Homo sapiens: one gene and its partners. The protein of the gene in region 1 purifies or fractionates together with the protein of each later gene. This does not show direct contact. Each region holds a gene or a part of one and is shown on either strand. Other genes may lie near its edges. The genes, in order: MTMR14, TMPO, SDHB, ACSL4, AFM, UGGT1 and SFXN4.

The links.
Region 2: the proteins of MTMR14 (region 1) and TMPO purify together in Homo sapiens (affinity purification with mass spectrometry, with the first as the bait; 2 studies listed by BioGRID). This does not show direct contact.
Region 3: the proteins of MTMR14 (region 1) and SDHB purify together in Homo sapiens (affinity purification with mass spectrometry, with the first as the bait; one large-scale study listed by BioGRID). This does not show direct contact.
Region 4: the proteins of MTMR14 (region 1) and ACSL4 purify together in Homo sapiens (affinity purification with mass spectrometry; 2 studies listed by BioGRID and IntAct, with this or other methods). This does not show direct contact.
Region 5: the proteins of MTMR14 (region 1) and AFM purify together in Homo sapiens (affinity purification with mass spectrometry, with the first as the bait; one large-scale study listed by BioGRID). This does not show direct contact.
Region 6: the proteins of MTMR14 (region 1) and UGGT1 purify together in Homo sapiens (affinity purification with mass spectrometry, with the first as the bait; one large-scale study listed by BioGRID). This does not show direct contact.
Region 7: the proteins of MTMR14 (region 1) and SFXN4 purify together in Homo sapiens (affinity purification with mass spectrometry, with the first as the bait; one large-scale study listed by BioGRID). This does not show direct contact.

The regions. Positions count from the first base shown.
Region 1 is NC_000003.12:9,648,078-9,652,304, reverse strand, and holds the start of MTMR14 (phosphatidylinositol-3,5-bisphosphate 3-phosphatase MTMR14), read right to left. Parts: upstream 2,801-4,227; 5' UTR 2,722-2,800; coding exon 2,563-2,721; intron 1,978-2,562; coding exon of another isoform or gene 1,776-1,977; intron 1-1,775. UniProt on the Homo sapiens protein: Lipid phosphatase that specifically dephosphorylates the D-3 position of phosphatidylinositol 3-phosphate and phosphatidylinositol 3,5-bisphosphate, generating phosphatidylinositol and phosphatidylinositol 5-phosphate.
Region 2 is NC_000012.12:98,522,090-98,525,589, reverse strand, and holds part of TMPO (thymopoietin), read right to left. Parts: intron 1-3,500. UniProt on the Homo sapiens protein: May help direct the assembly of the nuclear lamina and thereby help maintain the structural organization of the nuclear envelope. Possible receptor for attachment of lamin filaments to the inner nuclear membrane.
Region 3 is NC_000001.11:17,020,628-17,023,032, reverse strand, and holds part of SDHB (succinate dehydrogenase [ubiquinone] iron-sulfur subunit, mitochondrial isoform 1 precursor), read left to right. Parts: intron 1-302; coding exon 303-425; intron 426-2,405. UniProt on the Homo sapiens protein: Iron-sulfur protein (IP) subunit of the succinate dehydrogenase complex (mitochondrial respiratory chain complex II), responsible for transferring electrons from succinate to ubiquinone (coenzyme Q).
Region 4 is NC_000023.11:109,726,758-109,730,257, forward strand, and holds part of ACSL4 (long-chain-fatty-acid--CoA ligase 4), read right to left. Parts: intron 1-3,500. UniProt on the Homo sapiens protein: Catalyzes the conversion of long-chain fatty acids to their active form acyl-CoA for both synthesis of cellular lipids, and degradation via beta-oxidation. Preferentially activates arachidonate and eicosapentaenoate as substrates.
Region 5 is NC_000004.12:73,495,245-73,498,744, forward strand, and holds part of AFM (afamin precursor), read left to right. Parts: intron 1-55; coding exon 56-188; intron 189-2,407; coding exon 2,408-2,505; intron 2,506-3,500. UniProt on the Homo sapiens protein: Functions as a carrier for hydrophobic molecules in body fluids. Essential for the solubility and activity of lipidated Wnt family members, including WNT1, WNT2B, WNT3, WNT3A, WNT5A, WNT7A, WNT7B, WNT8, WNT9A, WNT9B, WNT10A and WNT10B. Binds vitamin E.
Region 6 is NC_000002.12:128,178,200-128,181,699, reverse strand, and holds part of UGGT1 (UDP-glucose:glycoprotein glucosyltransferase 1 precursor), read right to left. Parts: intron 3,233-3,500; coding exon 3,131-3,232; intron 1,915-3,130; coding exon 1,830-1,914; intron 811-1,829; coding exon 628-810; intron 1-627. UniProt on the Homo sapiens protein: Recognizes glycoproteins with minor folding defects. Reglucosylates single N-glycans near the misfolded part of the protein, thus providing quality control for protein folding in the endoplasmic reticulum.
Region 7 is NC_000010.11:119,141,715-119,145,214, forward strand, and holds part of SFXN4 (sideroflexin-4), read right to left. Parts: intron 660-3,500; coding exon of another isoform or gene 651-659; exon of another isoform or gene 539-650; intron 1-538. UniProt on the Homo sapiens protein: Mitochondrial amino-acid transporter. Does not act as a serine transporter: not able to mediate transport of serine into mitochondria.

The DNA of each region.
Region 1 (4,227 bases):
AAGGCATAAGAACTGTAACATCAAGAAGTTTGCAAGAGGGCCAGGCATGGTGGCTCACGCCTATAATCCCAGCACTTTGGGAGGCACCGAGGAGGGCAGATCACTTCTGATCAGGAGCTTGAGACCAGCCTGGCCAACAGGTGAAACCCTTTCTCTACTAAAAATACAAAAATTAGGCTGGGTGCAGTGGCTCATGCCTGTAATCCCAGCAGTTTGGGAGGCCAAGGCGGGCAGATCACGAGTTCAAGAGATTGAGATAATCCTGGCCAACATGGTGAAACCCCATCTCTATTAAAAATATAAAAATTAGCTGGGCATGGTGGCGGGCGCCTGTACTCCCACCTACTGGGGAGGCTGAAGCAGGAGAATCGCTTGAACCCAGGAGGCGGAGGTTGCAGTGAGCCGAGATCACGCCATTGCATTCCAGCCTGGGCGACAGAGTGAGACGCCATCTCAAAAAAAAAAAAAAAAATTAGCCAGGCATGATGGTGCATGCCTGTAGTCCCAGCTACTAGGGAGGCTGAAGCAGGAGGATCGCTTGAATCCAGGAGGTGGAAGTTGCAGCGAGCCAAGATCGCACCACTGCACTCCAGCCTGGGTGACAGAGGGAGACTCCTTCTGAAAAAAAAAGTTTGCAAGAAGTTAGTCCAAAGGTAGTGAGTTATCTCAATCGATTGTTCAGTTACAGATCTAACTCCCTGTTCTGCCTGAATTGTTATAAATACATATAAATATATATACATCTAAGTTTGCAGGAGATCAGAAGGCCTGGAGAGATAATTAAGGCCAGCCGCAGCCAATATGAGGTGTAACTTATGCTAACCCTAATCTTCAGGGTCATGTAAGTTGGAAGAGGGGTCCAGAAAAACCAATGACCTACAGCCACTCAAAAGACCCTTACTGGCCAGGTGTGGCGGCTCACGCCTGTAATCCCAGCATTTTGGGGGGCTGAGGTGGGAGGATTGCTTGAGCTTAGGAGTTTGAGACCAGCCAGGGCAATATAGCGAGACCATGTCTCTAGGAAAATAAAGAAAAATTAGCCAGGCATGGTGGTGTGTACCTGTGGTCCCAGGTGCTTGGCAGGCTTAAGTGGGAGGATCGCTCAAACCCAGGATTTCGAGGCTGCAGTAAGTCATGGTTGCACCACTGCAATCCAGCCTGGGCAGCAGAGCGAGACCCTGTCTCAACACAAAAAACAAAAACAAACAAACAAAAAAGCCAGGCGCGGTGGCTCACGCCTGTATCCCAGCACTTTGGGAGGCTGAGGTAGGCGGATCACCTGAGCTCAGGAGTTCAAGACCAGCCTGGCCAACCTGGGGAAACTCCATCTCTACTAAAAACTACAATAATTAGCTGGGCGTGGTGGTGGGGTCCTGTAATCCCAGCTACTTGGGAAGTTGAGGCAGGGAGAATTGCTTGAACTGGGGAGGCGGAGGATGCAGTAAGCTGAGATTGCGCCACTGCACTCCAGCCTAGGCGACAAAGCGAGACTCCTTCTCAAAAGAAAAAAAAAAAAAAAGCAAATTCCAGGATCCCACCCCCAGAAATTCTGACTTGGTAGGACTGGGTGGGACTAAGGAATCTCTGTTTTCACAAAGTATCCCATAAGCACAAATTTTAAAAGTACCCCAGATGATCATTAAACAGGTGGTCCCCAGACTATACTTGGAAAAATTACTTGGCCATTTGGAGAGTGAGGAAGTCCAATCCTTACTGAAGTCTTCCCTGGGTTACTTCAGAGACTACAAGATGCCAACTACAGAATAGCAACTCACGGTAATCTCTGAGGTCAAATCAGAGTTCTGTGGTGCAGGATGGAACAGAATTCCACTGGAAAACTTGGTGCTAAAGCTGCCAAAACCACGTGGGGGAATGAGATGGCAGGGTCGGCAAGATTCCCACCGCACTGCCAGCCAGTGCTTAGGGTGGGGATGGCCTGAGCTGACAGGAAGCCCTCCAGGTCTGGCGATAAGACGACTGGGTGGAAATCCCAAAGGGAGCAAAAAGAGGAACGGAGACCTGCTTTAGATAAAGGAACTGAAAGGGAGTGTGGGTTGTCTTCCTGCTCTATAGGGGAAGGAAAGGGATGGGCCTAAGTCATGCTGAGACCTTATAAGGGGGCAGCACACTGGGTTCACCTCCTGGCTCCATTCTGACCTCTGACCCCGAGGAATCGTCTCCCTATTTTTCTTAGCTTTTTCTTGGGGCTTTTTCCCTGACACAACTCATCCTACGGCACCTGAAGCAGGGAATAGACCTTCCTTAGGTCCTCCTCTCTGATCTTTGAACCTGGCCCCTCAGCTTGATCTCTCACCTCCAGACCCCTTCTCAAACAAGAAGGACCTCTTTGCTGGGCTCATTCTGACCCCAGTTCCTCCTTTTATGGTTGTCAAGACCGACTCTTATACTCCGGATACAGACCCTGGAGAACTCCTCTCTCTCTCTCCTCTTCCTCAGCGGCGAGGTACCACTCCTACCTTTTTCTGACCCCTGGCCTCAGCCTTTCCTCTGTAACTTCCCAAGTTAGGAGCCTTCCCCAGCTCATCGCACCTCCAATCTCACCTTAGAGCCGCCGGTCCCGCTGCCATCCTTGGCCCGGTACTGAGTCCGGGAGAACTCCTCCAGCAGCTCCCCAAGCCCCAGCTCCTGAGGCGGCTGGTTGCCTGAAGAGGCCGAGGACCCCGCCGAGGCAGCGGCGGCGGCGGCCCGAGCGCCGGCCATGGCCCAGCCCCGCGTCCCCTCAGTGTGCCTCAAGCGGGCCCATGGCACCTGCCTGCACCCAACTCCGACACTAGAACCTCCGGAACCGCCTCAGCCACCGCCTTCTACTTCCACTTCCACTTCCGGCCCCGCCCCGTCCCGCCGGATGTTTACTCCGACTCTGGCCAATCGGAGCTCTGGACCCGCGCCCCGCCTACGATTACTGGCCCGCCCCCGGCGCAGAGCGATCCTTCTATCCACCAGGGAGGCCACTGGCTGATACCGCGTGATCCGCCCCAAGGGGTTTCCCCCGGGGAAGCCGGGCTCAACCATTGGGCTGCCGGGGGAGGGGGGTAGCAGGAAGGAACCATTGAAAAGAACCAGAGGAAAAGTGGAATCAACAATTACAGGGAAGCCGAGCGTGGTGGCTCACACCTGTCATCCCAGCACTTTGGGGGGCCGAGGCGGGCGGATCACTTGAGGCCAAGAGTTCGAGACCAGGCTGCCAAAATGGTGAAACCGCATCTCTACTAAAAATAAAAAAATTAGCCGGGCATGGTGACACCCACCTGTAATCCCAACTACTTGGGAGGCTGAGGCAGGAGAATCGCTTGAACCCATGAGGCTGAGGTTGCAATGAGCCGAAATCGAACCACTACACTCCAGCCTGGGTGACAGAGCAATACTCTGTCTTAAGAAAAAAAAAAAATTACAGGGCGAGGAGGAGAGAACGCTTGGAGGCAACAAATTAGTACTAGAAACCATAATGGCAGTGGTTACCAATATTAAAACATTTCAGCCGGCCGCGGTGTCTCACGCCTGTAATCCCAGCACTTTGGTAGGCCGAGGCAGGCGGATTATGAAGTGAGGCATTCGAGACCAGCCTGATCAACGCAGTGAAACCCCGTCTCTACTAAAAATACAAAAATTAGCCGCGCGTGGTGGCAGGTGCCTGTAATCCCAGCTACTCGGGAGGCTGAGGCAGGAGAATTGCTTGAACCCGGGAGGCGGAGAGTGAGCCGAGATCGCGCCACTGCACTCCAGCCTGGGTGACAGAATGAGACTCCGTCTCTAAAACAAAAACAAAAACACAACATTTCATAAAACCCTTTCTCCCCCTGCTGCTCACAACATCCCTGTGAGTACAGTGCATTATATCATCAGCCCTATTTTATTGAGGTAGAAACTGGGAGTCAGGGAGGTGAAGCGACTGCCTTGAAATTCTGTGATGAGAAGCCTCTCATTATTATTATTATTAGAATATTTCAGACATTCGCAAAAGTGGAGACAATAGTATAATGAACCCTCATGTACCCATTAACTGGTTTTGAACAATAATCAACATCTGCTTATCTATCCTGTTTAAGCAGTCCCTTCCCATCCAGGGAATTATTTTAAAGCAAATCCCAGACATCACATTATTTCAGCTGTGAATACTTAAGCATTTATCACAACAGATTTGTACTTCAAAAAAAAAATACATAAAAAATATAAGGCTATTAACATGCCTAAGAAAATTAACAATAT
Region 2 (3,500 bases), on another chromosome or scaffold:
TTTGTATTTTTAGTAGAGACGGGGTTTCAGCATGTTGGCCAGGCTGGTCTTGAACTCCTGACCCCAAATGTTATGCCCGCCTGAGCCTCCCAAAGTCCTAGGATTACGGGCGTGAGCCATGGAACCTGGCCTGAAATACTTCAAATAAAGCAAGATATGAGAAATTCTTTTTAAAAAGCTGCTAATGGCTAATCATTCTATAATCAGAAGCCAAAAAACCTTCACCAAAAAAATAGCTGCTCATAAGAACAATTATGTCAACTTACGAGAAATCTTAAATAGACGGCTGTGGAGAGTTACAGTGAGAGTACTTTTAGCAGGCTTTAATTCACATACATTGCACTGACCTAGAACTGTCAGGCTCATATCTGGAAGCAACCCACACCATAATATCCAAATAGTTGCCTAGGGTCTAAGAGTTCTAAGACTTATTTCTTTCAAGAAAAGATTTAATCAAACAAACTTAATCCTATGTTACTGACTTACTCAAATTTTCCAAAAAGTGCAGTCAGGTAGTACAGAAAAACTAAATAATGCTTAAAATAAAAATAAAACATGGAAAAACAATCAATCAGGTTCAAATTATTTGTACATAATCCCCACTACCACGAGAATGTTCAAATTTACTATCAATAAAACATCCAGGAAATTCCAACTTTTCAAACCCGCCTGAGAGGTTTTCAAGAAATCTCTTTGGGCCAGGTGCAGTGGCTCATGCCTGTAATCCCAGCACTTTGGGAGACCAAGGTGGGTGGATCACTTGAAGTCAGGAGTTCGAGACCAGCATGGCCAACACGGTGAAACCCCGTCTCTTTTAAAAATGCAAAAATTAGCCGGGTGTGGTGGCACATGCCTGTAATCCCAGCTACCTGGGAAGCTGAGGCAGGAGAATTGCTTGAATCTGGGAGGCGGAGGTTGCAGTGAGTCGACATCATGCCACTGCCCTCCAGCCTGGGCGATAGAGCAAGACTCTGTCTCAAAAAAAATCTTAACTCTTTTTTTTTTTTCTTTTTCAAGGTGGAGTCTCTTAACTCTCTCGCCCAGGCTGGAGTGCAGTAGCGCCATCTTGCCTTGCTGCAACCTTCTGCCTCCCAGGTTCAAGCAACTCTCCTGCCTCAGCCTCCTGAGTATCTGGGACTACAGGTGCATGCCACCACGCCCAGCTAATTTTTGTACTTTCAGTAGAGACAGGGTTTCACCATTTTGGCCAGGCTAGTCTCAAACTCCTGAGCTCGTGATTTGCCCACCTCAGCCTTCCAAAGTGCTGGGATTACAGGCGTGAGCCACAGCACCCAGCCCAAAATCTTAACTCTTGTTACCTCTATTTGGAAAGGTCTTACCCATTTCTGATTCTTCACCTTGGGCCAGATAATCTGTTTGTAATTGTGTAGCCCAGGTGATCTGGATGCAGCATTGAGGCAAGCAACAGAAAGCAGACGCACTATCATCCTCATATTCTTATTCCAAGCATCTAAACATTTCTAAAAAGACTGATACAGGAATAGCCCCCTGATAAATGTTTTGTCAAATCTGGGGAAGGAAAAAGTAATTTATTTTTGAAAATCCATTTCTTATTAGAAATAACAGGCCTATCAAATCTAAGTAAAAACCAATTCTCGGCAGTGGCTCATGTCTGTAATTCTAGCACTTTGGGAGGCCGAGGAGGGAGGATCTCCCGTTGAGGTCAGGAGTTTGAGACCAGCCTGGCCAACACGGTGAAACCCCATCTCTACTAAAAATACAAAAATTAGCCAGGTGTGATGGCACACGCCTATAGTCCTAGCTACTCGGCAGGCTGAGGCTGGAGAATCACTTGAATTGGGGAGGCGGAGATTGCAGCGAGCCAAGATTGCGCCACTGCACTCCAGCCTGGGTGATAAGGCCAGACTTCGCCTAAAGAAAAAAAAGAAAGAAAGAAAATCAATTATATTTCCTTCAAACATAATGAAAAACATCAGCTGAACAAAGATATCTTAAATAAGTGACCAACAAATCTACATAAGGTAAGTCAGATAAATTAAAACCAAAAACGTGATTTTTTTTTTTTTGAGATGGAGTCTCACTCTGTTGCCCAGGCTAGAGTGCAGTGGCATGCCCTCCATCTCCCAGGTTCAAGAGATTCTCCTGCCTCAGCCTCCCAAGCAGCTGAAATTACAAGCGCGCAACACCATACCCGACTAACTAATTTTTGTATTTTTAGAAGAGACAGGATTTCACCATGTTGGCCAGGCTGGTCTCGAATTCCTGACCTCAGGTGATCCACCTGCCTCGGCCTCCCAAAGTGCTGGGATTACAGGTGTGAGCCACTGCACACAGTCAAACATGTGGTTTTTAATCTGTCAGGAAAAAAGTTCCAGAAAAGTGATGTCATTTTATAAATCTCAGATTTAATAAGGATAAAAAATTAGGAGACAGTGTGCTGTACATGATTAGCAGTTTCAGTCAGGAAAAAGGAAGCATCAGTTGCATTAAATTCTGCCTCCAGAAAGCTTTGTTCCTTTAAGTAGATCACTTAAGAGTTTCACTCAAAAATAGTACCTACTATGCTACCCGATGATCTCTAACGTATTTTTCAACTTCAAAACCCAACAGCTCTATGATATCACCGATGAGCTTCTCTAATTCCTTTAATCTCTACCTCTAGTATAAAGATGTTGAACCATAACAATATATTCTAGTGGGCACTTATTATGTATTACGTACTGAGTTGTGTTCCAAGTGTCTTTGCATTAACTTACAGAGTCCTAAAAATCTATGGAATAAAATGCTAATATCCCCATCTGACAACTCAGAAAACTGAGGTTCAAGCATGCTCTTCACTAACTCAGGAAATCTGCATGCTATGATATACATGTCACTTTCACTTATCTACCTTATTCGTTTCCCAAAATTATATTTTAGTAACATTGCACTATATTGCCCTGACATTAAAGACAAAAATTCAGAAATCATTTAATGGCTATTAATTACTAAGCACTAGACACTTCACATATGCAATGGCATGTACTCCTCAATCTGATTAAGTAGCTATTAGGTTATTCCTCTATTTCAGGTGAAAATAGAGGATCTTAGATTAAGACACTGTTCAGTGTCATATGAATAAGTGGCAGACCTGGAATTTGAATCTATAACTCTATTATTCACAAGTCTGTAAACTTAACACCTTATTATACAGTGGTGGTAAATTTGTGATTTAATTAACATTTCCTATTGGTAGCATGCTTTTATGTTCTTTTCCAGGTCTTCAAATATTTCCTATTGAGAATTCATAATTTGGCCAGGAGCAGCAGCTCACACCTACAATCCCAACGCTTTGGGAGGCCTAAGCAGGAGGATCCCTTGAGGCCAGGAATTCAAGACCAGCCTGGTCAACATAGTGAGACTATCTCTATAAAAATTTTAAAAATCAGCTAGGCATGGTGGCACACACCTGTAGTCCCAGCTATTCCAGAGGCTTGAGCCCAGGAGTTTGAGGCTGCAGTGAGCTATGATCATACCAC
Region 3 (2,405 bases), on another chromosome or scaffold:
AGCTGGGTAGGAAGCTATTGAGCAATGTGAAATAATTAGGAGATGATACCCAGTGTGTATAATTAAGCACCCGGGTACCAGGTGCAGTATGGATCAAAGGTTTGCAGGGACCATTAATCAAGTGAAGCTACAAGTGTTGGGAACCTTTCCTTGAAAGATGGACAAGAATTAAAGAGTATGGAGATGAGGCATCTAAGCTGAGTGAATTCCCTTTCCTCTGCACTCCCAGAGCTTTGAGTTGAGCCAGGGTGCCGCTCTGGCCTGTTGATTGGCAGCTCAGCTAATCATCCCTGGTTTTCCAGGCCTATCGCTGGATGATTGACTCCAGAGATGACTTCACAGAGGAGCGCCTGGCCAAGCTGCAGGACCCATTCTCTCTATACCGCTGCCACACCATCATGAACTGCACAAGGACCTGTCCTAAGGTACGTGGGGCTGGTGACCCTCAGCTCTGCCTCAGAGCTGACACGCCAGAAGTAGCATGTGCTCACAAAGAGGTGATTGGCAGAGAGCAACCCTAGTCATTTGAGAAGGAAAGGGACCAGCATATGCCTGTCCTTTCAGTGTGAGCCTAGGGGCTAGTTTGGCTCTTAGTTGCAAGGAGTAGACTGACTCGGGCCACCTCAGGAGCAGGCTTTATTTGTAGGCTACACAGGGACATTGTGGGAGTTAAGGATGCACAGGAACCCATGAGCAGGTACCTGCGTTCAACCTTCCCAGGAAACAGAAAGCGAAAGCCGTTGGAACGTGGGCAGCTGTGAGGACTTCATTTCTTCTCCATCTTTCTCGCGATGTCAGCTGCTAATCTGCTCTGCTCTCTAGCAGCCTGTTCTTTCCTTCGGCTCTGTGGAGGTTTTCTCTGACTCAAAGCTCTGGCTTTCGTTCCTCTTCCTGCTCGCATTTGCTGCTGCTTTTGGCTCACTCTGGCCTGGATTTTGCCTCCCAGCACACTTCCAGCTTCAGCCACCCGCCTGCCTCCCAGCACTTCTCAGCACAGTTTCCTGAGAGGGTGTCGCATTGGCCCAGCTCACCTTCTCATGCCTGCACATCAGAGGCCACAGCTGGCTACAGACCGGCTGCCCTTTGGCCAGGTTCTGTCTCAGTCTGTTTTGTGGTACTATCACAGAATTTCAGACTGGGTAATTTTATAAAGAAGTTTATTTGACGCACAGCTCTAGAGGCTGGCGCCAGCATCTAACAAGAACCTTCGTGCTGTATTACCCCATGGCAAAAGGCAGAAGGGCAAGAGAAAGGGAGCCCAAGCTCAGCCTTTTTTTTTTTTGGAGACAGAGTTTCGCTCTTGTTGCCCAGGCTGGAGTGCAATGGCACGATCGATCTCAGCTCACCACAACCTCCGCCTCCCAGGTTCAAGTGATTCTCCTGCATTCGCCTCCCGAGTAGCTGGGATTACAGGCAGGCACCACTCATGCCTGGCTAATTTTGTATTTTTAGTAGAGATAGGGTTTCTCTATGTTGGTCAGGCTGGTCTCGAACTCCCGACCTCAGGTGATCCACCCACCTTGGCCTCCCAAAGTGCTGGGATTACAGGCGTGAGCCACCGCGACCGGCCCCTCTCATCTGTTTTTTTTAAAAGACAGGGTCTCACTGTGTTGCCCAGGCTGGGGTGCAGTGGCGCAATCATAGCTCACTGCAGCCTGGAACTGCTGGCCTTAAGTGATCCTCCTACCTCCTGAGTAGCTGGGACTACAGGCACACACCACCACACCTGACTAATCCAAACTCATCCTTTTATCAGGAACTTACTCCTATGATAATGGCAATCCATTTGTGAGGGCAGAGCCTTCATAATCTAATCACTTCTTAAAGGTCCCACCTCTCAATACTGTTGCATTGGGGATTAGGTTTTCAACACATGAGCTTTTGGGGACACATTCAAACCATAGCAGGTGTCAGCCCTGGTCCAGTCAGCCTTGCCCAGTGGGCAGGGAAGGGCTAGGGCTGTGTGGTTCAGAACACGGCTGCCCTCCGAGCAAAGACTGTGGGTGATTTCACTCAAAAGTTGCAGTGAGTCAGTGGGCGGCAAGGTGGAAAACTGTAGGGTGGCCAGTTAGCCGTAAAAAAAGATCACACTGTGTGTTTGAAAACATGAAATCCAAGCTGTAGAATTCACTTATTTTTTGCCTGGAAACCCTCTGTGTTTCCAGTGGCCTCGCTGGGGGAGCCCACAGGCTTCAGCTCCCTATTGCCTGGGCTTCCATCTGGGTCCTGTCCCCAGGACTGTGGTTTACCATGATTGTGCCTGTGAATAGCTACTGACCTCTGAGGCAAGTTATGCTATAAAAGTGCTTGGAACAGTGCCTGGCACATAGTAAGCACCCAATAAATGTCACCTTATGTTATTTTTTAAAAAAACATGAGTACTGGGCTTGTTTGAGACAGAGATA
Region 4 (3,500 bases), on another chromosome or scaffold:
AGCCTCGACCTCCCAGGCTCAAGGGATCCTCCCACTTCAGCCTCTGGAGTAGCAAAGACTACAGGCACATGCCACCATGCCTGGCTTTTTTTGTTGTTTTTTGTTGTTGTTGTTGTTGTTTTGTTTTTTTTGTTTTTTTTTTAGAGACAGGGTCTCACTATGTTGTCCAGGCTGGTCTCAAACTCCTGGGCTCAAGCAATCTTCCCACCTTGGCCTCCCAAAGTGCTGGGATTATAGGCGTGAGCTGCAGTGCCCGGCCATCACTTGTCTTTTTAACTGGGTTATGATGTCTTACACTTTCCAGAAGATTTTTTAAAATATATACTTAGATTTTTAAAATATATTCTTAAGTTATTTTTGTGTATGATGAGAGATGGAGACTTATTACTTTCTAAATACACAGCCACCTGTCTTTACTCAATTTCCATTTTCAACATTACACTTAGAACACTTAAAAGAACTAAAGTGTCAACTGCTTCGTTATAAAAAAGGAAGTTGTACAAACAAAATAATAAACCAACAGTCTAAGCTCAGTTTGATAGGCTCTTACTACTATGTACTTAAAGATCACATAGCAGTTTCAGGAGCAAAAACACTACCATGCCTGGCTCTCTTATTACCGCTACAGCTCACAACAGGGTCTCCAAAAGACATCATAGACTGCATAGAAGTCTATCTGCAGCTTACTGATTGCCACACATGTAAATTCACATTCACATTTAAATAACCCACACTTAACAACAAAATCAACCGTCTCAACTCTCTATGCATTCCTTATTGCTGCTCCTAGACCACAGTGCTTTGGAGACTTAGTAAAGAAAATGAATGCACTCTCCTGAATCACAATATCACCTGGAAATGTAACCAGAAGGTATAAAAAGTCAGGGTAGTTTGTTAAATTGTGTGTGTGTGTGTGTGTGTGTGTGTGTGTGTGTGTGTGTGTGTGTGTGTGTAATCAACAATTTATAAGGTTACCTTATCTCTGGGGTCAGCACTTTTTCTGTAAAGGTCCAGAGAGAAAATTGGCTTCACGGGACATAAGGGCTCTGTTTCAGCTCTGATGTTGTATTGTGAATGCGGCCAGAAAACACATAAATTAATGGATGTGGCTATATTCCAAGAGAAGTTTATTTACAAAAACCGGTGGTGGGCAGGATTTGGCCACAGGCAGTATTTTGCCAGCCCCTGCCTTATACCAATGTTTTATCTTTTTCAAATAACAATCTACTTCCCTCACTGCACACATATTTGAGTAAATATAGTAACACTGAAGGGACAAATAATTTCAGTACTGCCTTACAGAAATGAATATTCTCAAAATTAATCACTAACCTTTTCCTATAATTCCTTCTCATATGAGCACATACATTTTTCAAAATATAAAACTGTAAACATCACCTTGAACCTAATATTTATTTCAAAAGACAGTTACAATGAGTGTCATGTAGCTGCTATAAAAGGAAAAATGCAGTCTAGACAGTCAAATACAATGATCTTTTATTCATTATTCTCATAATCAACAGTGAGTAGAAAAGTCTGCTAAATACATGGTCATGAATCATAACTTCACTACTCAAAATGCAGAAGTAGACTTTCAAAGTACATTTAAATAAGAACACAAATTTGTTTTTTGGATTACTTACCAAAATCCTTGATGGAAAATGATACAGTTTTGCCAAAATATTTTTAATTTAGAAAGTGAAACCAAAAACCTCTTTAGCATATCATGCGTCTATTTAATTTTAAAATACAAATTTTAATGTTGCATTTGACAGCCTGGTGAGGTAGACATTATATTTTTAAGGCAGCCATTTTAATATAGTGAGAGCATGTGTGAATATGTATTAACATTCTAAGCCATTAAGGCCACTTGTTCACAGAATATATTTGAGCTCTAAAATTGTTGAAAGAGAAAATGCTCAAATAGCTTACAGAAATAATGGATGTTATACAGAACAGAAAGGAATCAAATTAAATAACAAAAGTTTGTAAGATTTCTTGACACCAAAAGCACAGTCCATAGAGGAAAAATTAATAAACTGGACCTCATCCAAATTAAAGCCTTTTGCTCTGTGAAATTCCCTGTGAAGAGGTTGGAAAGACAAGCTACAGACTGGGAGAACATATTTTCATACCACTACCTGACAAATGATTAGTATTAAGAATAAAAAGGCCAGGGGCGGTGGCTCACGCCTGTAATCCCAGCACTTTGGGAGGCCGAGGCGGGTGGATCATGAGGTCAGGAGATCGAGACCACCCTGGCTAACACGGTGAAACCCTGTCTCTACTAAAAATACAAAAAAAAAAAAAAATTAGCCAGGTGTGGTGGCGGGTGCCTGTAGTCCCAGATACTTGGGAGGCTGAGGCAGGAGAATGGCGTGAATCTGGGAGGCAGAGCTTGCAGTGAGATTGCACCACTGCACTCCAGCCTGGGCAACAGAGCGAGACTCCGTCTCAAAAAAATAATAAAAAACTCTTAAAACTCACCAGGTTAAAAAAAAAATCCAAATAGAAAATGGACAAAAGACATGAACTGATATTTCACTGAAGATACAGAGAATGGCAAATAAACACATGGAAAAATGATCAACATCATTGGCGATCAGAAAAATGCAAATTAAAACTAGGAGGATATATTACTACACACCTATGAGAATGGCTAAAATAAAAAATAGTAACAGCACCAAATGCTGTCAAGGATGAGGAGCATTCACACATTCCTGGTGGGAATGTAAAATGGTACAGCCACTCTGGAAAATGGTTTGGCAGTTCCTTAGAAAACTAAACATGCAAGTGCTATACCACCCAAGAAGTACACTCTCAGGCATTTCAGAAATTTATGTTCACACAAAATCCTGTGGACAACTGTTCATATGAGCTTTATTCAAAATAGGCAATAAATAAATAAATAAATAAGTAAAACAAACAAAAACCCTGGAAACATCAGATGCCCTTCAAGAGGTGACTGGTTAAACAAACTGCAGTAAATCCATATTATGGAATACTACTCAGCAATGGAAAGGAACAAGCCATTGATAAAAGGTATATTCCTTGCACTAATCTCCAAGGAATTATGCTGAGTGAAGTAAAGTCAGTCTCCAAAGGTTATATACTGTGTGATTCATTTATATAAGCATTTTTGAAATGACAAAATTATAGACATGAAAAACAGATCAGTGGTTGCCAGGAGTCAGGGATGAAGGGAGATGGCTACATCTATAAAAAGACAACAAAAAGGATCCTTGTGGTGATGCAATTGTTCTGTATCTTGACTGTGGTAGTGCTTATATAAATCTACACGTGATAACATTATGTAGAACTAAATACATACATGCAAATGACTGCATTAAAGGTGACGAAATCTGAGTAAGGTTGATGGATTGCATCGATTTCAATTTTGTAGTTGTGATGTTACACTATACTTATGCATGAGGCTATTATTGGGGGAAATTAGATAAAGCGTATTATTTCTTACAACTATATGTGAATCTACAACTATC
Region 5 (3,500 bases), on another chromosome or scaffold:
TTGGGTTTTTTGCTCTTTCTCTAATTTCTAATATACAAAATTTTACACATTGCAGGTTTACTTTTGAATACTCAAGGAGACATCCAGACCTGTCTATACCAGAGCTTTTAAGAATTGTTCAAATATACAAAGATCTCCTGAGAAATTGCTGCAACACAGAAAACCCTCCAGGTTGTTACCGTTACGCGGTAGGTTCCATTGTTGTAGGTTCAGAAAATCAAAAAAGAACAACTAGAAAACACTTAAAAATTGATATCAGAGTTTTGCTGCAGTCTGGGGGTAGAAAATGTGATTGGCTAATCTGAGTCCACTGTAGATTCAGCCTAAGAAGATTATTGGGAAGGCCAATGTCATCAGTTTGGCTGATGCATAATGTTTTGGACTACTAATCCAATGTGTTAATTCAAAAAAGTCTTCCCATTAAACATTTTAAATTTACATTTTTCTTTATGTATTCTGTATTTTATTAAGCCGTATTGGATATTACATGATTTCAAAAGCAATGATTGCTGTAGATGACTAGGAAAATATTCTGTATTTTATTAAGCCATATTGGATTCTTTATGGTTTCAAAAGTAATGATTGATTGTTGTTGATTATTAGGAAAGCAACAAAGGTTACAAAGAACCCTTTTCTGATTCTCCCACTGGGAAATAGCTATAATTAACATTTGTGTTCAACTCTTCAGTACATATACGTATATATACGTGTATTTTAAAAATAAGATTGGCATAATTCCTAGAAAATGTTTGGACCTGTTTTTTTATTTGGTATCATAGAAAACTTTTTTGTTGTTGTTGTTATAAATTGTGCTTCCTTGGTTTCCTGCTGTTGCCACAAAGGGAGCGGCTTAAACCAACAAAAATTTATTCTCTCACAAGAGGCCAGAAGCCTGAAATGAGTCTCATGGGGCTAACATCAGGTGTCAGAAGGGCTGTGTTCCCTCTAGGGAAGCTAGTCCTTGACTCTTCTTGTGTCTAGTATAGAAAACTTTTTACGTCATTAAACAGACTTGAAAATAAACTTCTTTTTAAATGATGGTATCCCATCATAATTATTTAATTTATTTAACTGATTTCCTACTGTGTGTTTGACATTTTGGATGTTTGCTTAGGGTGTTTTTCACTTTGTAAGTGACCCTGAGATGAACGTCTCCTTCCATTTATCTTTATTAATATTTATGGCTTTTTTCTTAGGATGGATTATCAGAAGGAAAATTATTGGATCAAAATATATGAACTTTAAAAAACATTTAACACAAATTGTTGAATTACTGTCAAGAAAGTTGTTTCTGGTGTCTGGCCCCACAACAGTGCTTGGAAATGCTCATTTCAATGTCACTTTTACCAACATTGCACATGGAAATTAACTTTGCTAGATTTATATGTAAATAACAGTGTTTGTGTTTTTAAAACACCTTTATTTGATTTTTAAATTGTTAAATTTTTTCCATATGATTTTAGCTATTTACACATTTTCTGTGAAAAATCTGTTCATGTGTACTACCCATTTTCCTGTTGAAATTAGTGTTTTTCATATAAATTCATATGTATTTCTGAATACATATTAGAGAAATTAATAATTTGACATTTTTTGATTTATTTCTCCTTCCTTTGATATGTGCTACTTTTGCTTTAGCAAAACATTTTTTTTCACTTGCCACAAACACCAGTTTATACCCACTCAAATTTGAGCAATGGAATAAGACTTGGATCCCTGCTCTGTAACTGTCCCTAATGAGGTAGTCTGTTTCTGATCCTTAAATTAATCATAGCGCTAGAAAATTCTCTCTTTTCATGGAGATACAATTTGCTCCACAATAGCTATCCACTGGTGTTTAGTTCTCTGTCTGGTGGCCACTCAGAAGATGTCCAATTTTATGCCACATGAGAGATAGTCCATCAAATATTTGAAGAAAACTGTTGGAGGTTTTAAGTTCCAAATCTAAACAATGAAAAAATCAAAAAGAGCAACATGATTTAAAATGTTCTGTAACAACACTTACTAGCTGGGGTATTCTGGGTAAGTCACTTAATTTCACAAGGCCAGTTGCCTTTACTTAAAAATGGAGATAACAACTGCTCTTGCCACTTCAAAGTGACAACTGAATGTTATTATTTTCAACATACAATTTAAATTCTGTTTTGTAATTTGGAAGGCTCTGAAATATGTACAAGGTGATAATAAAAAAATTTGGACTTTTAAATTTAGCAAGAAATATATTTTTATATACATAATTAAAAAATTAAGTTCTTGCACGTGCTTGTAAAAAGTGCCCTGAATTTAGTGTAATAATGAGAATTTGAAAATACCATAGAAATAAGAAATGCTATTCTACACATTGATGTAAAGCTTATGGTTAAATTTTAGATAAAATGTTTGTAACCATGATTATTCTTATTTTCAGGAAGACAAATTCAATGAGACAACTGAGAAAAGCCTCAAGATGGTACAACAAGAATGTAAACATTTCCAGAATTTGGGGAAGGATGGTTTGAAATACCAGTATGTTGTTTGCACAAGTGGGCTAACACTTGCCACTAGAATTGAATACATAATCCCTCGAAGCGTAAAAAAGTTAGCTGTCAAGTTTTTCAGTTATGGCCGATTCATAAACTCTTGGAAGAATTTTTTTTTAAAGTCAAGAATGCCTATTGAACTGTCACATTAATCTTTTATCAGAAATGAAGCTAAAAATAAAAGAAATACAGGATTCTGGAGACATTGATTCTCTAATGCTTTGGTTTCTGTTTGACATTGGCTTTCTCACTGCCAATCTAGAATCCCTGCATCCTCACCCATTTCAAAGTGGGACACTGCATATTTCAGGTCATTACAGTTTCTTTGGGGAAGAGATAGTTTGCCTTGCCTTGCCTTACGGCTATCTTACCTGAGTTTATAGAAATAACTCAGGATGTGTTTAACACTTTAATATTTAGCTTTTTAGTGCTCTTGTGAGCATTTGTGAATAATATGCAGTTTGGGTTTTTTTCAATTATTATGTCAATGTATTTTATTATCATTATTATTATTGTTATTATTATCATTACTACATATTTTTGAGACAGGGTCTCTCTGTCACCCAGGCTGGAGTGCAGTGGTGTGATCTCAGCTCACTGCAATCTCTGCCTCACAGGCTCCAGTGATCCTCCCACGTCAGCCTCTCAAGTAGCTAGGGCTACAGACGTGAGCCACCATCCCTGGCTGATGTTTGTATTTTTTGGTAGAGATGGCGTTTTGCCATGTTGCACAGGCTGGTCTTGAACTTCTGAGCTCAAGCAATCCAACCCTTCGGACTTTGCTGGGATTACAGGTGTGAGCCACTGCACCTGGCCTCATGCTAATGTATTATTTATTGAAACTAAACATCTTTAAATCAAAATAAAACACAGTTTAAAAATATCTGACTTTCCTATTTCTGCAATTTGGCTGTTAGCTGACAATTCAAACTTAGTTCATTAAAAATCTTAGTTTTCTTCATCTCAGATTATCCTTTTACA
Region 6 (3,500 bases), on another chromosome or scaffold:
CAGGCTAAGCCAGTGGAAGAGAATTCCAAAGAGGTGAGTGAAGTCTCTGTCCCAGTGACTTTCACACACATTACATCCTTCCACTCAGGTGGCTGACTTGGGTTTCCGCCCGCTCGGGCTGAAGTGGAAGGCTGTGGGCAGACGTACACTTATGCTGTTTGAGTTTGTATGCTCTAAAATCACATGTTCCCTTTCACTAAGTCAAACCCTGACGGCCGGAAGAATATCCGGAGGTTCCCTACTGCCAAAGCCATGTATCCACTTAAGCTTCGTCTATTACCCATGACAATAACTCCTATCTTTTGGGCAGATAATTAGAGATGATGGCAAGCACTGCTAAATGTTAATTTTCTAATTTTTAGTTTTCATGTTAAATGAATTAAGTCAGATACAAAACTGCACACATTATGTCATCACAATGATGTTAAAAAGACAGAGAAAAAGATGTAAAGGAGATAAGCTAAATGCAAATTTAAAAAGTGATGACATCTATGTGATACATATTTTCATATTTTCTAAATGTAAAATAAGCATGTCCTTTTCCATAAGTGGAAAAAATAGCATTTAAAAAGAAGCAATTTGTTGCTTTTAATACAAACTGTCAAAACTTGGCCTTTAAGGGCCTACCTGATCAGCATCCACAAACAGGAACTTGTCAACAACTAGTGGGAAAAGTACATCCAGGAAGAGGATCTTGTAACCCCAGATGATACGCTGTTTTTCAGTTTGTTGATGAAGCCACCGGGGCCATTTGTACTGAACAAGCTCATACTGGAAATTGTATTCATTTGCCATGTAAGGTATAAACTCCTATTTTTAGACATGGGAACAACAAATAATCATTTCTTCTGATTAAGAAAACTGCTTTCATAATGTAAGCCAACCACCATGATACGGGACAAATAAAACACATTTACCAAAACAGTGGTCTTACAAAGACCGGCCGTGACCCACTCATGACTACATAGAAGAACAGATATAAACCTTTGTCAAATCCCCATTTCTTTATGACTTCTGGTCACCACATGAAATGACAGAATGTTCAAGAGAAGGATTTTAGATGTATATCCCTCTGTGTGTGTTTTTACAGCACATGAACTTTAAGTCCATTTGTCTAAACTTGATTTCAGTAAGGCATTTACTGAGCTTGATGACAAGCCTTCCTCGAGGCCAGATCTAACCCAGGGAATAACACTGCAAAGCCAGAACTCTGGACAAATGTGTTGTCCTTTTTGAATAAGTCTTTCAGATTCTAAGTATAAGCACCTTTAGGCGCCAGCAGTAAAGTGCTTATCAAGGAGAATGGTTATTGAATATATTAAAAGTCACTTAGTAAATTCTACAAGAAAAAAAAAGGATGCAAATAAATCAACTTAGATGACAAATACTGACTGATATAAGTAATGCAGAAAACATTCCAAGTACGTGTTTTGTTTTGCACAGAGGAAGCACTACTTCCATACATCATCTAGGAGTGGTTCATGCTAACACCAATCATTCTCTTCAATGTAAACCATCGCTGTGCTTTCTAAATTAAAGCAAGCATGCAGGCTTCAGAGGAAGGAAACGTTATCTCAGTAAGACACTGCTAATAATAACAACAACAAAAGACTCTCCTACCATATCATCCAAGTTTTTAAACACAATTTAACTGTTTCCTTCAAATAGACCAATCTGGAAGAATAATCAAAATAAAAATATGCAACCAAATTAGGGTATCTTAGTAAATGGAAAATTTGCTAAAGTATACAGATAAAACAAAAGTCATGAAAAATATACAGTAAATATCTCCTTAATAAGAATGTTTTCCCTTTCTCTGTGAAACAAACCTTAAATGTGGGGGACAAGTAATTCTTCAAGAACCAGAATTTCACAGGAGTCTTGGTATTCTTCAGCACGGATAGCATCATTATGCTGCCAAACAAAAGCAGGTAATTAATAACAGCTTTCCAATGTTATTTAACCTCAACATTATGTAGAGTCAATCACGAGACACCTAAATGCTCTTTACGGCAGAGCTAACTAATGGCTCAATTAGGCCGAGGGAGACGCTCAGTGATGGAAAATGAAAAATTGTACTTACTCCAACTTATGAAGTTATCACTAAAGAGAAGGGGCATTCCTCACCTATAAAACTACACTTAACTGACAGAGGCAAATGTTTTAATTCTGTTACACCTCTAAATAAACTGCTTCATGAACTGATATATTAGTTATGGTCCAGATGAACCCTGGAAATCGGGGTAACTGACATCACTCCCCAAAACTCCTGTCACATGACATCAGCATCTGGTGCTAAGGGAAGAATGTGTAACCACAGCGCCTCCTGCAGCCTACACAGAGGCCCTGCTTTAGAGAGGAAGGCTACCAGCTCCGGCCTCCTTACTCAGAAAACAAAACCACATTTTTGAATGGAGGAATTTAACCAAATTCGGTTGTTATTATTGTCACTATTTTAGGTAGGATATTATTTCTTGGAAATAAGAGGGCTAAAAATGAGACAAATGACATTTTGATTTTCTATACTAGATCTGTAGTGAAAAATTAAGAGTGAACAGAGCCCTGGCAATGAGAAAAGTGACTCTCAGGCCTTCCTGACAGTGCCTCTGGTGACCACTACATCAGGCAGCCCTAGCCCGTGGCCTCTTCTGGCTGTAGCTGTGTGACCTTAGACAAGTCCCTTCACACTCGGGGCCTCAGCCTGTTTATAAAACAGAAGTGTTCACATGTAAGAACTAAGCTCTCTCCTGGCTCTAAAATCCTGTGAATCTTTACAAGGCAGTGAAGTATTCCATGGTTCTGTTCTGATTCTATTCTCTATGTCAACCTCCTAATCTCTGGGTTAAGCAATGTTTGGCAGGCAGTAAACAGTACAGTCTATGAATGTGTACAGTGACGTTAAAGGGCTGCAGCCTTGTAATATCCAGAAGCACTCACTACATAGTTCAACTTCACAGAGACGGCGGGATCAAAACAAATCCAATGATAAATGGCAAGCCAGTCACAATGCTCAGAGTGCTTCAAAGACACAGGAGTATAATGAGCAGAATCCCACAAAACCTTTCCTCTCTAAATAAGAACACTGACCAATTCATTCATCATATATAATGAAATAATCAACAAGACTGACCGAAGAAATCTTTCGTAGAGATGACCAGATGCAACGGAGAAAATATTAATTATGTCATCTTTATCTTGCTTCACTTCCTCAGTCTTCTGTCCTGTAAAGCCCCTATAACAATAAGGGTAAAAAAAAGACCACTTGAAACACTCATACAGACACACGGCCTTTGAAAGTAAGAGGAAAGAGACTGCGCTTCCCATCCTTCCCTAGCGGGTGAGCTGCAGCAGGAGTGGTTATGAAGCTTCCCTCACACCCTGGAGAGACCACAAGACTGACAAAACCAACCTACAAAAAGAATGTTCACTCTCCGACAGTGTTGTTTTAGGAAGAGACTGAACACAGGCTGCACCAGAATGCAACTTACACAACGGGAAGT
Region 7 (3,500 bases), on another chromosome or scaffold:
TATAATTGAAAGTTTCCATTAAAAAGTTTTAAGATGGCTGGGCACAATGGCTCATGCCTGTAATCCCAACACTTAGGGAGGCTGAGGCAGGTAGATCACTTGAGGCCAGGAGTTCAAGACTAGCCCGGCTAACATGGTACAAAAAATACAAAAATTAGCTGGGTGTGGTGGCACACACCTGTAATCCCAGCTACTCCAGTGGCTGAGGCACGAGAATCACTTGAACCTGGGAGGTGGAGGTTACAGTGAGCCGAGATCAGGAGGATTGCTTGAGGTGGGGAGTTTGCAATCAGCCTGGGCAATATAGTGGGACCCTATCTCTACAAAAAATAAAAAATTAGCCAGGTGTGGTAGTACGTTCCTGTAGTCCCAGCTACTTGGGGGGCTGAGGTCAGAGGATCACTTGAGCCTGGGAGTCAAGGCTGCAGTAAGCCATGATCATACCACTGCCCTCCAGCCTGGGCAACAGAGTGAGAAACCCTGTCTCAAACACACAAACAAACAAAAAACAAATGTAGAAGGAATGTAATGAACTCACATGTGCTCACTCAGGAATCACTATTAACAATTTGCAGATCTCATTTCATCAAGCACCTCCCACACCCAGCAGTAGGATTTTTTTCCTTGAGTATTTTAAGGCAATTCTCATGTCATGTCACCTACAAGTTCCAAATGATAAAGACCTTATCATTATTGATATAGTACTTGATATAGTAATGACAGTAGTTACAAAACTACTATGTCATTGTCACACCTAACAAAATTAGTAATAACTCCTTATCTCATCTAAGCACCTCCATGCCCTCCTTGAGCCAACAGGATATTTTGTGTCTTTTTTTTTTTTTTTTTTAAATGAGATGGAGTCTCACTCTGTCACCCAGGCTGGAGTGCAGTGGCGCGACCTCGGCTCACTGCAAGCTCCGCCTCTGGGGTTCACGCCATTCTCCTGCCTCAACCTCCCGAGTAGCTGGGACTACAGGCACCCGCCACCACGTCCAGCTAATGTTTTGAATTTTTTTTTTTTTTTTTTTTTTTGATATGGAGTCTTGCTCTGTCGCCCAGACTGGAGTGCAGTGGCGCGATCTCGGCTCACCGCAAGCTCTGCCTCCAGGGTTCACACCATTCTCCTGCCTCAGCCTCTCGAGTAGCTGGGATTACAGGCGCCTGCCACCATGCCTGGCTAATTTTTTTGTATTTTTAGTAGAGACGGGGTTTCACTGTGTTAGCCAGGATGGTCTCAATCTCCTGACCTCGTGATCCGCCCGCCTCGGCCTCCCAAAGTGCTGGGATTACAGGCATGAGCCACCACGCCCGGCCCCAACAGGATATTTCCAAAGTCCAGCAAGCAAGTCTTGGCATCTGAGGTCACGCGTGAGACTGACTCCCTTTCCTGCCTCCACTCTGGCCTCTGGGAGTTCTGCCCCTTCCAACCTTGCATGACTTACCTGCTGCCCTGCTCCTTGGCCTGGCTGTGCAGGCCCTGCCACCTGGCCCCCAGCATCCTGCCTGTTCCTTGCAGCCTCACGTGCCCATTCAGCCCTTCCCATCCTCCACTGGGGATGAACTCTTCCCTCTCCCTCCTGGGCTCAAGTGATCCTCTCACCACAGCCTTCTGAGTAGCTGGGACTGCAGGTGTGTGCCGCTTCACCCTACTAATTTTTTTTTTTTCGAGACAGGGTCTCACTCTGTGACCCCATTGTAGCCTTGACCTCCCATGCTCAGGTGATCTTCCTACCTCAGCTGCCTGAGTAGCTAGGACTACAGGCACATACCACCATGCCTGGCTAATTATTATTTTTTCTTTTTAAACAATTTTTTTCAGAAGAGAGATGAGGTTCAGACTGGTCTCGAACCCTGAGCTCAAGTGATCCTCCCACCTCGGCCTCCCAAAGTGCTGGGATTACAGGCATGACCCACTGTGCCCAGCCAAATTTTTATTTTTAGCAGAGACGAGGTCTTGCTATGTTGTCCTGGCTGGTCTTGAACGCCGGGGCTCAAGTGATCCTCCCACTTGGGCTTCCCAGAGTGCTGGGATTACAGGCATGAGCCACAGCACCCGACCTAATTTTTAGAACATTTTATGTAGAGACGAGGTCTCACTACATTCCCCAGGCTGGTCTGGAACTCCTGGCCTCAAGCAATCTTCCCACGTTGGTCTCCCAAAGTGTTGGAATTACAGACATGAGCCACCGTGCCTGGCCTGAAATTTTATTCTGAGATGCTGCCTCGCTCCCCAACCCCTCGCCCATAGCATAGTAATAGGCATAACTATCTAAAATAATCTGAAACTTCTACGTTGTGCTGGCAAAGTTGCTTGAATGAATGATCCTACAACCTAAACCTATAAAACGTGGGTTCTGAACAAGATCATTCCATAAATATAAATGCTTTTGAGGACATATATATTTATAGTGACAGAAATGAACATTTGAAATGTTTAGCCAAGAAACTGCTAGTATCAGCCGGGCGTGGTGGCTCACGCCTGTAATACCAGCACTTTGGGAGGCCGAGGCGGGCGGATCACGAGGTCAGGAGATCGAGACCATCCTGGCTAACATGGTGAAACCCCATTTCTACTAAAAAATACAAAAAATTAGCTGGGTGTGGTGGCGGGCGCCTGTAGTCCCAGCTACTCAGGAGGCTGAGGCAGGAGAATGGCATGAACCCGAGAGGTGGAGCTTGCAGTGAGCCGAGATTGCGCCACTGCACTCCAGCCTGGGTGACAGAACGAGACTCCGTCTCAAAAAAAAAAAATTGCTAATATCTGCTAGCATCAGTAATGTCTTTGACATCTGCTAGCAATTTATGGCAGAGCTTTGGAAATTAAAAAAATTGGCTTTCTGACTTAAAAAAAAAAAAATGTCCTTGCTACCTACTAAGCAACAACCCTTTGCAGAGATGCCATTATCTTCAGCTCTCTTTAACAGATAAGAAAACTAAGCAAGTTGACCAAGGTCATGGAGAAGCTGGAATCTGAGTCCAAGCAGCCTGACTCATCATAAATTATATTATAAATTATCTATAGAACTGGGCTGTCCAATAGCCACTAAGCACACAAGAGTACCTAATTTAAAATTTAACTTAATTTACAATTCAGTTCCCTAGTCACACCAGCCTCTCCTGAAGTGCTCAGTAGCACACGTAGCTCATGGCTACCATAATTGGACAGCACCAATCTATTATAGAACATTTCCATCACTGCAGAAAGTTCCACTGGAGAGGGCGTAGTTATAGAACATTTTGGAGTATTTAAAATTTCTCTAAGTAATTTTAAAAGATTTCTTTTTATGCCCCAGAAAAAAAGGCTTATGAAATATTGTTAAGAAAAACAGAACCCAAAACTGCACCAAGAGATTTGAGGGATAGAATTAAATATAAATATCATTACAATTAACCCTTGAATAATGCAGGTTTGAACAATGCAGGTCCACTTATATACTGTTTCCCCCTCAGTCACCCCTGAGACAGCAAGACCAATCCCTCTTCCTCCTCCGCAGCCT